2 separate regions of the Homo sapiens genome follow, and region 2 is linked to region 1. A link means that fine-mapping ties the variant in region 1 to the expression of a gene that starts in the linked region. Tissue or cell type: whole blood. Region 1 holds a variant in brackets; the other region holds the start of a gene. All regions are shown on one strand. Distances are from middle to middle.

The links. PIP is the estimated chance that this variant, and not a neighbour inherited with it, causes the effect.
Region 2: it holds the start of B4GALNT3, and the variant in region 1 is fine-mapped to the expression of B4GALNT3 in whole blood (TOPMed, PIP above 0.99). The same link has a PIP of 0.9 or more in neutrophils.

Annotation. Positions count from the first base shown.
Region 1 is chr12:543,073-547,170 of GRCh38, reverse strand. It overlaps B4GALNT3 (beta-1,4-N-acetyl-galactosaminyltransferase 3), which reads right to left. Exons shown (of 20, transcript NM_173593.4): 4 at 2,737-2,832; 5 at 2,199-2,289; 6 at 1,702-1,802; 7 at 458-525. Among named protein-coding and RNA genes, the nearest start is that of B4GALNT3, 85 kb to the right of the region's middle. RefSeq lists enhancers at 354-888, 3,787-4,098. The variant A/G (reference allele first, on the strand shown) is at 2,353.
Region 2 is chr12:457,636-461,733 of GRCh38, reverse strand. B4GALNT3 (beta-1,4-N-acetyl-galactosaminyltransferase 3) reads right to left here and starts at 1,795. Exons shown (of 20, transcript NM_173593.4): 1 at 1,189-1,795. The coding sequence starts at 1,357. RefSeq lists an enhancer at 1,644-2,627.

The DNA.
Region 1 (4,098 bases):
CGCCCAGCAACGCCCGCTCTTCCCGCCTGCGTGAGCGCGCGTGGGCCACCAGGGGGCGCTCTGAGGCCGCGCTACGCTCCCTCCCCGCAAGGGAAAGGGACTCGTGTCCCCAGACGACCGAGGGGGACCTCGGTCCGGGGTCCAGGCTGTTGTGGGTGTGGAGAAACGGGGGAGGGCAAGGACTGGGAGGAAGGAGACCTATTTTCCAGTCCCGCGTGTCACTAAAGAGCTGCGTGACCTGCAATAAGTCACGGCCTTCTGGGCCTCAGTTTCCCCATCTGTGAAACGAGGACGGATGGGCTCGCGGCTTCTGAGCCAAAGACCCGGTTGCCGGGAGCGTGTGGGTGCCGGACACACGGAAGCTCTGGAGTCGGCAGCTGGGCTGGCGGACAGGGGCGCAGCCGGGCTCCACCGAGGCACCGAGGCGCCCACAGCGCCTGTCCTGACCCTCACTCACCTCACCGGCTTGGAAATTTGGCTCCGAAATTTCCCAAACTCTCCCGGGGCGGTCCACTCCTTTCCAGTCTAGAGGTGTGGAAGAGAGAAGAGGAGGGAGGAACAGAGAAAACAGGAAGCACGCGAGGCGGTGAGTGCGAGACCAGGAAGGAGAACCAAGAAGTGAGAGAAAAAGGGAGGAAGACGGGCGGAATGAAGGTGAGAGAGGTAGGAGAGAAAACAGAAGGGAGTGAAGGAGTGAGCGTTGCCCACGCAGGAGGCAGCCCGCCTTGCCAGGAGCCCGGAGCAGCCGGATGACCTGCAGCGCGAGTCAGCACCCGGCCAAGGCCAGAGGGCCCCAGAGATGCTGCGCTGGGTGTCCCAAGCCGAATCGCTGTGGTCCTTCCCCAGCCTCAGACTCGCTCCCCACTCCTCCCTGTCCGCACTCTCTGCCCCACTCCTCCCACCTCCCCACTCCTTACTCCTCTCCCCACCTCCCCACTCCCCTCCTCCCACACCCCCCTCCCTCCTCTCACACCCCCTGCCCACTTCTCACTGCTCCCTCTTTCTCATTCCCCCCTCCTCTTCCCTCTTCCCGACTCCTTCCCGCTTTTCCCTCCTTCTCACTCCCCACTTTCCCACAACTCCCCACCCTAACTCCCAACTCCTCCCCACTCTTCACTCCTCCCTACTCCTCACTCCTCCCCATTCCTCACTCTTCCCCACTCCTCTCACCTCCCCACTCCTCTCATCTCCCCACTCCTCTCACCTCCCCACTCCTCGCACCTCCCCACTCCTCTCACCTCCCCACTCCTCGCACCTCCCCACTCCTCACCTCCCCACTCCTCGCACCTCCCCACTCCTCTCACCTCCCCACTCCTCGCTCCTCCCCACTCCTCACCTCCCCACTCCTCGCTCCTCCCCACTCCTCGCTCCTCCCCATTCCTCTTACCTCCCCACTCCTCTCACCTCCCCACTCCTCACTCCTCCCCACTCCTCGCTCCTCCCCACACCTCGCTCCTCCCCATTCCTCACTCCTCCCCACACCTCGCTCCTCCCCACACCTCGCTCCTCCCCACTCCTCACTCCTCCCCATCCTCAGTTTATCCCTTTGTAGAGGGGTAGGGGTGAGGGAGGAGACTTCTTTTCCACCCCTTCTTCCCCGCTGTCACACCAGAGATGCTAACAGTAATGAGCAGCTGCTGGAGGACTCAATGAACAGGCTCCAGGAGCAGATGGGAGGGACCGGGGTTGAGCTGGCCTTACCTTGCCCACACTGGCCAGCAGCTGGAGGCCTGAGACCTGGTCATCGAGGCTCAGCCAGAACTCCGCGTTGTCATCTGCAGCAATGGCAAACTGGATTTTCCCTGGGCAGCGGGGAGAGTTTCCAGATGAGGGCAAGGAGGGCATCAGCATAAAAGCTGGAGGCTTTTGTGAGTGTCTTAGCGATTAAATTCCCTTCAGTGCTTGATGCTGTGGCTTCCCTCTCTGTAAAGTGGGGGTTTCTACATCCTGGGAGACAGTGTGAAGATGGAGAAGACTTATATGGAGAGATGAGCTGGTTCCAGGCTGCAAACCAGGGAGCAAAGCAGCAGCCTGTGGGAGTTGGACAAGACCGCAATATGACTCAATTTCCCCTCTCTTCCTGAGGGTGGACTAACAGGAAGTTAGTCCAGTCTACCTATAACCTTATCTTATGTTCTTTGGGTCCGATGCAGAACTCTAGAGCAGGAAGAAGGATGGGGTTTTGGGGCTGGCCTCACCATCAGTAAAGGGGTGCAGGTAGCCAAAGATGCGGAGGCCATAGTTGGTCCATTTGGGGGACACAGCAAGCTTCCTCAGGGTTGTGCGAATCTATGCCAAGAAAGGGGAAGGAAACAGTTACCCAGAAGAGGGAAAAGGAAACTTCCCGCCAGG[A/G]TTGGCGGGAAGACCAGGAGGGGACTATGACAGGAGGGACCAGGGCTGTGGCTTTGTGAGTGGAGTGCAGGCTCAATTTCAGTTCCCATTTGCCTCTTTGTCCAGGAGACCTTGTACAGTGCACAACCAGCACAACTGTACATGGTGGCCCTGGGTACACTATATTGTGAGCCAGAGAGCCTGAAACTGAAATGATGCAGGGGATGAAATTGAAAGGATCCCTAGGAAGGAAACAAGGGAACTATTATGGGCAGACAAAAAGAGAGCTCAAGAGATAAAGGAGAAAATATGGACCAGAAAAGATGTAAGGAAAGATGAGAGACAGAAGTGGGCAGAGGAGGCAGGTGTGGAGGGAGGTGGGCAAGGCAGCCCTCAGGCACTCACATGGGGGTACAGTGGGAAATGCAGGTTCCTCCTGAGCTGCTGGATAGAGCTGCCACACCAGTCTTCAAACACATGCAGGTTGGCACGGCCCCGGAACTGCAGGGCGGAGACGCCAGTGGTGAGTGAGCGTGAGCACCCCATGCCCGCCCCAGATCCTCAGCTCCAGGGGGATGAGCATCCCATGCCCGCCCCAGACCCTCAGCTCCAGGAGGATGAGCACCCCATGCCCTCCCCAGAGCCTCAGCTCCAGGAGGATGAGCATCCCACACCCGCCCCAGATCCTCAGCTCCAGGAGGATGAGCACCCCATGCCCGTCCCAGCTCCTCAGCTCCAGGAAGATGAGCACCCCATGCCCGCCCCAGCTCCTCAGCTCTGGGAAGATGAGCACCCCATGCCCGCCCCAGCTCCTCAGCTCCGGGAAGATGAGCACCCCATGCCCGCCCCAGCTCCTCAGCTCCAGGAGGATGAGCATCCCACACCCGCCCCAGATCCTCAGCTCCAGGAGGATGAGCACCCCATGCCCGTCCCAGCTCCTCAGCTCCAGGAAGATGAGCACCCCATGCCCGCCCCAGCTCCTCAGCTCCGGGAAGATGAGCACCCCATGCCCATCCCAGCTCCTCAGCTCCGGGAAGATGAGCACCCCATGCCTGCCCCAGCTCCTCAGCTCTGGGAGGATGAGCACCCCATGCCCATCCCAGCTCCTCAGTTCCAGGAGGATGAGCACCCCATGCCCGTCCCAGCTCCTCAGCTCCAGGAAGATGAGCACCCCATGCCCGCCCCAGCTCCTCAGCTCCGGGAAGATGAGCACCCCATGCCCGCCCCAGCTCCTCAGCTCCAGGAGGATGAGCACCCCATGCCCATCCCAGCTCCTCAGTTCCAGGAGGATGAGCACCCCATGCCCGTCCCAGCTCCTCAGTTCCAGGAGGATGAGCACCCCATGCCCGTCCCAGCTCCTCAGCTCCAGGAAGATGAGCACCCCATGCCCGCCCCAGCTCCTCAGCTCCGGGAAGATGAGCACCCCATGCCCGCCCCAGCTCCTCAGCTCCAGGAGGATGAGCACCCCATGCCTGCCCCAGCTCCTCAGCTCCGGGAGCGTGACCACCCCATGCCCATCCCAGCTCCTCAGCTCCGGGAGGCTGGGCAGAAAGGGGCCGGTGCTCCTCTCACTGTGCGGGTCCGGCCCACTCTATCCCATTCCCAGCCCAGCACCCAGCACTTCTTTCAGGAACCTGGTGCTGATGTTCACCCCATGGCCTGGCCTTGGGGACAAGGTCTGCTCTGGCCATGCACACACACACACATACTCTCCCTGGACCTCCCATGCAGGAAGGGGGCTGGTGTTCATTCCCCAGGCAACGGGGA
Region 2 (4,098 bases), 85 kb after region 1:
CTCTTTGGCCACAAGAGAAGGCACAGCACCACACCCAACTCTGGGTAGAGAAGCTGACACGACGACAGGTCAGAGTCAGAGTATCTTCTCAGCTGCTTGCTCAGCCACTCTGTCCGAGTTTCCCCAAAGCGGGAGGAAAGTGAAGGCATGGGAGGCCACGTGCCAGAACTTTGAACCTCGGCTCCCCGGGCTTGCGTTGGGCACCTGGTAGTAACGGGAGTTTCTCCATTTCTTTTCCCAACTATTACAGGATCTTTTACGGCCCCTGTCACTGTCAGTTTTACTTTGTTAGGCCCATCCACAGTACGTTGAAAACCACCTCGCACAGCCATACCTATTGATGTAAAAAGGCAAAGAGACCACGCTCTCCTGTTTTCCTAGGAGGAAACTGAGGCACGGAAATATTAAGTGGCTTTGGCTAAGTTAAAAACAGAAGTAGGAATCTACCTGCTGCCCGGTCCACTGTGCTGTCCATCATCTCCTTAAACTGGGGAGTTTGGTAGATTTGCTCAGGGTTCAGAAAAGTGGCAGAAGGGGCGGCCCGAACAGGAGAAAGAGGGCGCAGCGAGGAGGTGGGAGATTCAAAGAGCCGAGGACGGAGGCTGGGAGAGGAGCGACGTATGGGAAGCGGGGAAGAGACGGGACTCTCCGAGGTATGGTAAAAAAGAACCCCCCTAGAAGATGCAGCAGGAGAGGAAACGGAGTGAGCCAAACAGAAGGCGGTGGGCAAAGTTTGGGCTGCGCGGACTGGAGCGCGCGCCTGGGTGTGGACGGCCGAGGGCATCCCGCACCCGAATCCCTAGCTCGCGCGTGGACCCCACGGACCTCCTCCCCGGGAACCGCAAGCCCGGAGCGGCTGGAGGGGCCCGGTCTCCGCCAGCGTCTCGGCGGGACGGGCGGGGAGCCTCTCTCCGGGTCGCTCTCCGAGGGGAGACGCGAGGAGCCCCCAGGGTGCCCCGGACCCACGTGGCCGGCGGGCAGGCCCGGGCTCGGGAATTCTGCGCTCGGCCCCGCGGCTTCCCCCGCCCGCAGCTCTCCCCGAGTACGCGCGGGGCGACGCCGGGCACCTGAGGGAGAAATGGGTGGGAAATCGGGTCTGAGGATGGGATGAGAGGCGGGTCCCCCCAACGCAGGAGCCGCCGCCGCCGCCCACCCCCGCGCCCTTCGCCTCCCCTGGGTGCTACTTACTCCGGTTCAGGGGGTTCCCGCCGACCTGGGCCGACGCCACCAGTTCCAGATACAGAGTCCAGAGCCCCACAGACACCACGGCGAGCGCCAGCAGCAGCCGGAAGCGCCTCCGCAGCAGCTTCACCGGGCGCAGGAGCAGCGGGGGCCGCGCGGCCCGGGGGCTCCCCATGGCGCTGCGCCGAGGCGGCCGCCGCCAGCGCGGGCTCCAACCCCCCGAGCCGCCGCCCCCCGGCCGGGCCCCGCGCCCAGGGCGCCCCGCGTCCCGGCCCAGCGTCTCAGGGCTGCGCCGAGGCCGTCTCTCCCGGCCGCTCTCCGGCGGGGCTCGGGCTCATGCTCCGGGCGCGAGGGGTCTCCGGGCTGCGCGGGCGCCCAGCAGGTCTCTCCGGGAGCCGAGCCCGGCTCCTCCTCCGCGCGTGTGTTCCGCGCCGGGCTCTCCTCCCCACGCCTCTCCCGTCGCAGGCTCGCTGCCGCCCTCCCTCCCTGCGCGCCCGCCCTCACTCGCTGCCCAGAAGGAGGCTTCCCCGGCGCCCGCCCGCCTGCCTCCGCCCGCGCCCCCGCCAGCCCCGGACCGGGCTCCGGGCTCTGGGCTCTCCTGCTCGCGGAACCTGGCCCGCCCCCGGCCCCGCCCCCGCCCCCGCCCCGGGCACAGGTGGGCTCCGCCCCCGAGAAGCCAGGGACGCGAAGAGGCCATTCGGCTTCCCTAGGGGAGCGAGAGGTGGGGCCAGAGAACTGGTGCCTGGTGCCTCCCCCGACTGGGAACGGGTGGGATGAGGAGGGGGCGAGTGATGATGCGGACTCTGGGTGACCGAGGGAAACCGAGTCACCACCCAGGCGCCTAACGGTGTGGTTTTAGGCAGAAGCGAAGTAGAGGCTGGTTTGGGCGACGCCCAAGGCTTTAGCCTCAGAGCCTTTCGTCGCCAACAGCAACGACCCGACTCCCTGCTTGACGAAACCAGTAGGCGTGAAATATCACGGGAGCCACTGGACGCTTAACGCAGACATAGCTTCGTTTTCCAGTTGAGATTTGAAGACCTTTCTTCCCAGCCTGAACCACATCTCCGAGAGGCGCTGGGGAAGTCGTACAGCCCCCACGGTGAACCCCAGCAAGCAGTTTTCCCCAGACTGGGCTGGAATGGCTGTTTGAAGAGAGTAGGTGTTTGAGGGTTCCGAAAAAGAATTTTAAAAAGAAAAGAAAAGTATTCACTCTTAGAGTTGAAAAGATCAGCAAGATAAGCCAGGCACAGTGGCTCACGGCTGTCGTCCCAGCACTTTGAGAGGCTGAGGCAAGAGGATCTCTTGATCTCTGGAGGTCAAGGCTGCAGTGAGCCGTGATTGCGTCAGTGCACTCCAGCCTGGGCAACACAGCAAGACCCTGTCTCAAAAAAAAAAAAATCAGTATTCCAGTCCTCTGCCTTCAGGCAGGTAAAGCATTATTATCTGATTTAAATTAGATAAAGTATCAAGGGGCAGAATAACTGCCCCAGGTCACTCAGCAAGTTATACTGCAGTTTTCTTTTCCATTATCTCTTCTGGGAAAAATGGTCAGGAGACTATGGGAAAAGTGAAGGATCAAAGTGTTCCTGGACATTTTAAAATCAAATGAATATCACACAAGTACTGTTCCAAGACAGAGGTTCTCACAGAATTGAGAACTATGTTTCCCTTCTCTCTGTTCTCACCTCAGTTGGATATTCAATAGTTTCTACAGGACTTTTCCTAATTAGCCTCCCCAACTCCAAGCTTCCCATCGCATCCTGTCCACTACCACCAGATGGTCTTCATAAAAAGCCAGGCATGGTGACACACACCTGTAGTCCTAACTTACTCGGGAGGCTGAGGTGGGAGGAGTGTAAGGTTGTAGTGAGCCACAATCATGCCACTGCACTCCAGCCTGGGTGACAGAGCAAGACCTTGTCTCAAAAAAAAAAAAAAAAAAAAAAAAATCCCGTATGTAGTCACACACCTGCTCAAAAATATTTAATGGCTTCCAATGCTTATTGATTAAGATACACACTGTAAATCCAGAATTCAGGGCCTTCCAGAACCTTTTCCAACTTTATGTGACCACATGAAACCTGCTCCAGCTAAAACGAGTTTATTCACTACCCTCCAACACATTTTCTTTTCTAGTTGGTCAACTTGTACCCTTTATCCAAGGTCCATTTCAGATTCTATAAAGCTTTCTTGGACCAGCCAAGTCCTAAGCAACTCCTTCCTTTCTGGAGCTTTAGTAGAACTTGCCATCTGTCTCACCATCTGATATGTTGGAACTTACTTGGAGTGTGTGAGTCTTGTTTTCCCAACCTCACTGTAAGGCTTCAAAAATGGGAGCTGCATTTCCAGTGGGTGGTACAATGTCCACTTAGCACTTAGGAAGGTTTGAGGATGGGGGTAGCACTTTGAGCAAACATCTTCCAGAACTTTCACTGCAGTTCTTTAGCAAAAAGGGTGAATCCAAAGGACAATTCTCTAATTGTAGCCCCTGGGAAAGGTCTCTGTGAAGTTCCAAAGCCACAGATTCCTGTACTTCTCATGTTCTTCTTTCTTTCCACAAGTCCAAGATAGGAGCAGCCAGTGTGTGCACGGCCTGTGCAAGCTCGGCTGAGTCAAGTGGGAAGTGACCGGGCCCTGTAAATAGAGTCCCTCTCTTACTAAGGGCAACCCAACTGGATTTTAGGTTGAGTCACTTTTAACACTTTGTCATGGAAACAGGTGGCAGCCTTGCCACAATTCTCTCCTCAAGACTGAGAAAGCTCATGCAATCACTTCGGTCAACCAAATGCTTGAAGCATCTATTATGTAGGAACTGGGAGAGATCTAAAACAAGAAGCATGCTGTTTAGTTGAGGAAAAAAGATAGTCCACAGGAAAAGAAATCTGACAGTTTAAAGGCCAAATTTATGGTCCAAAG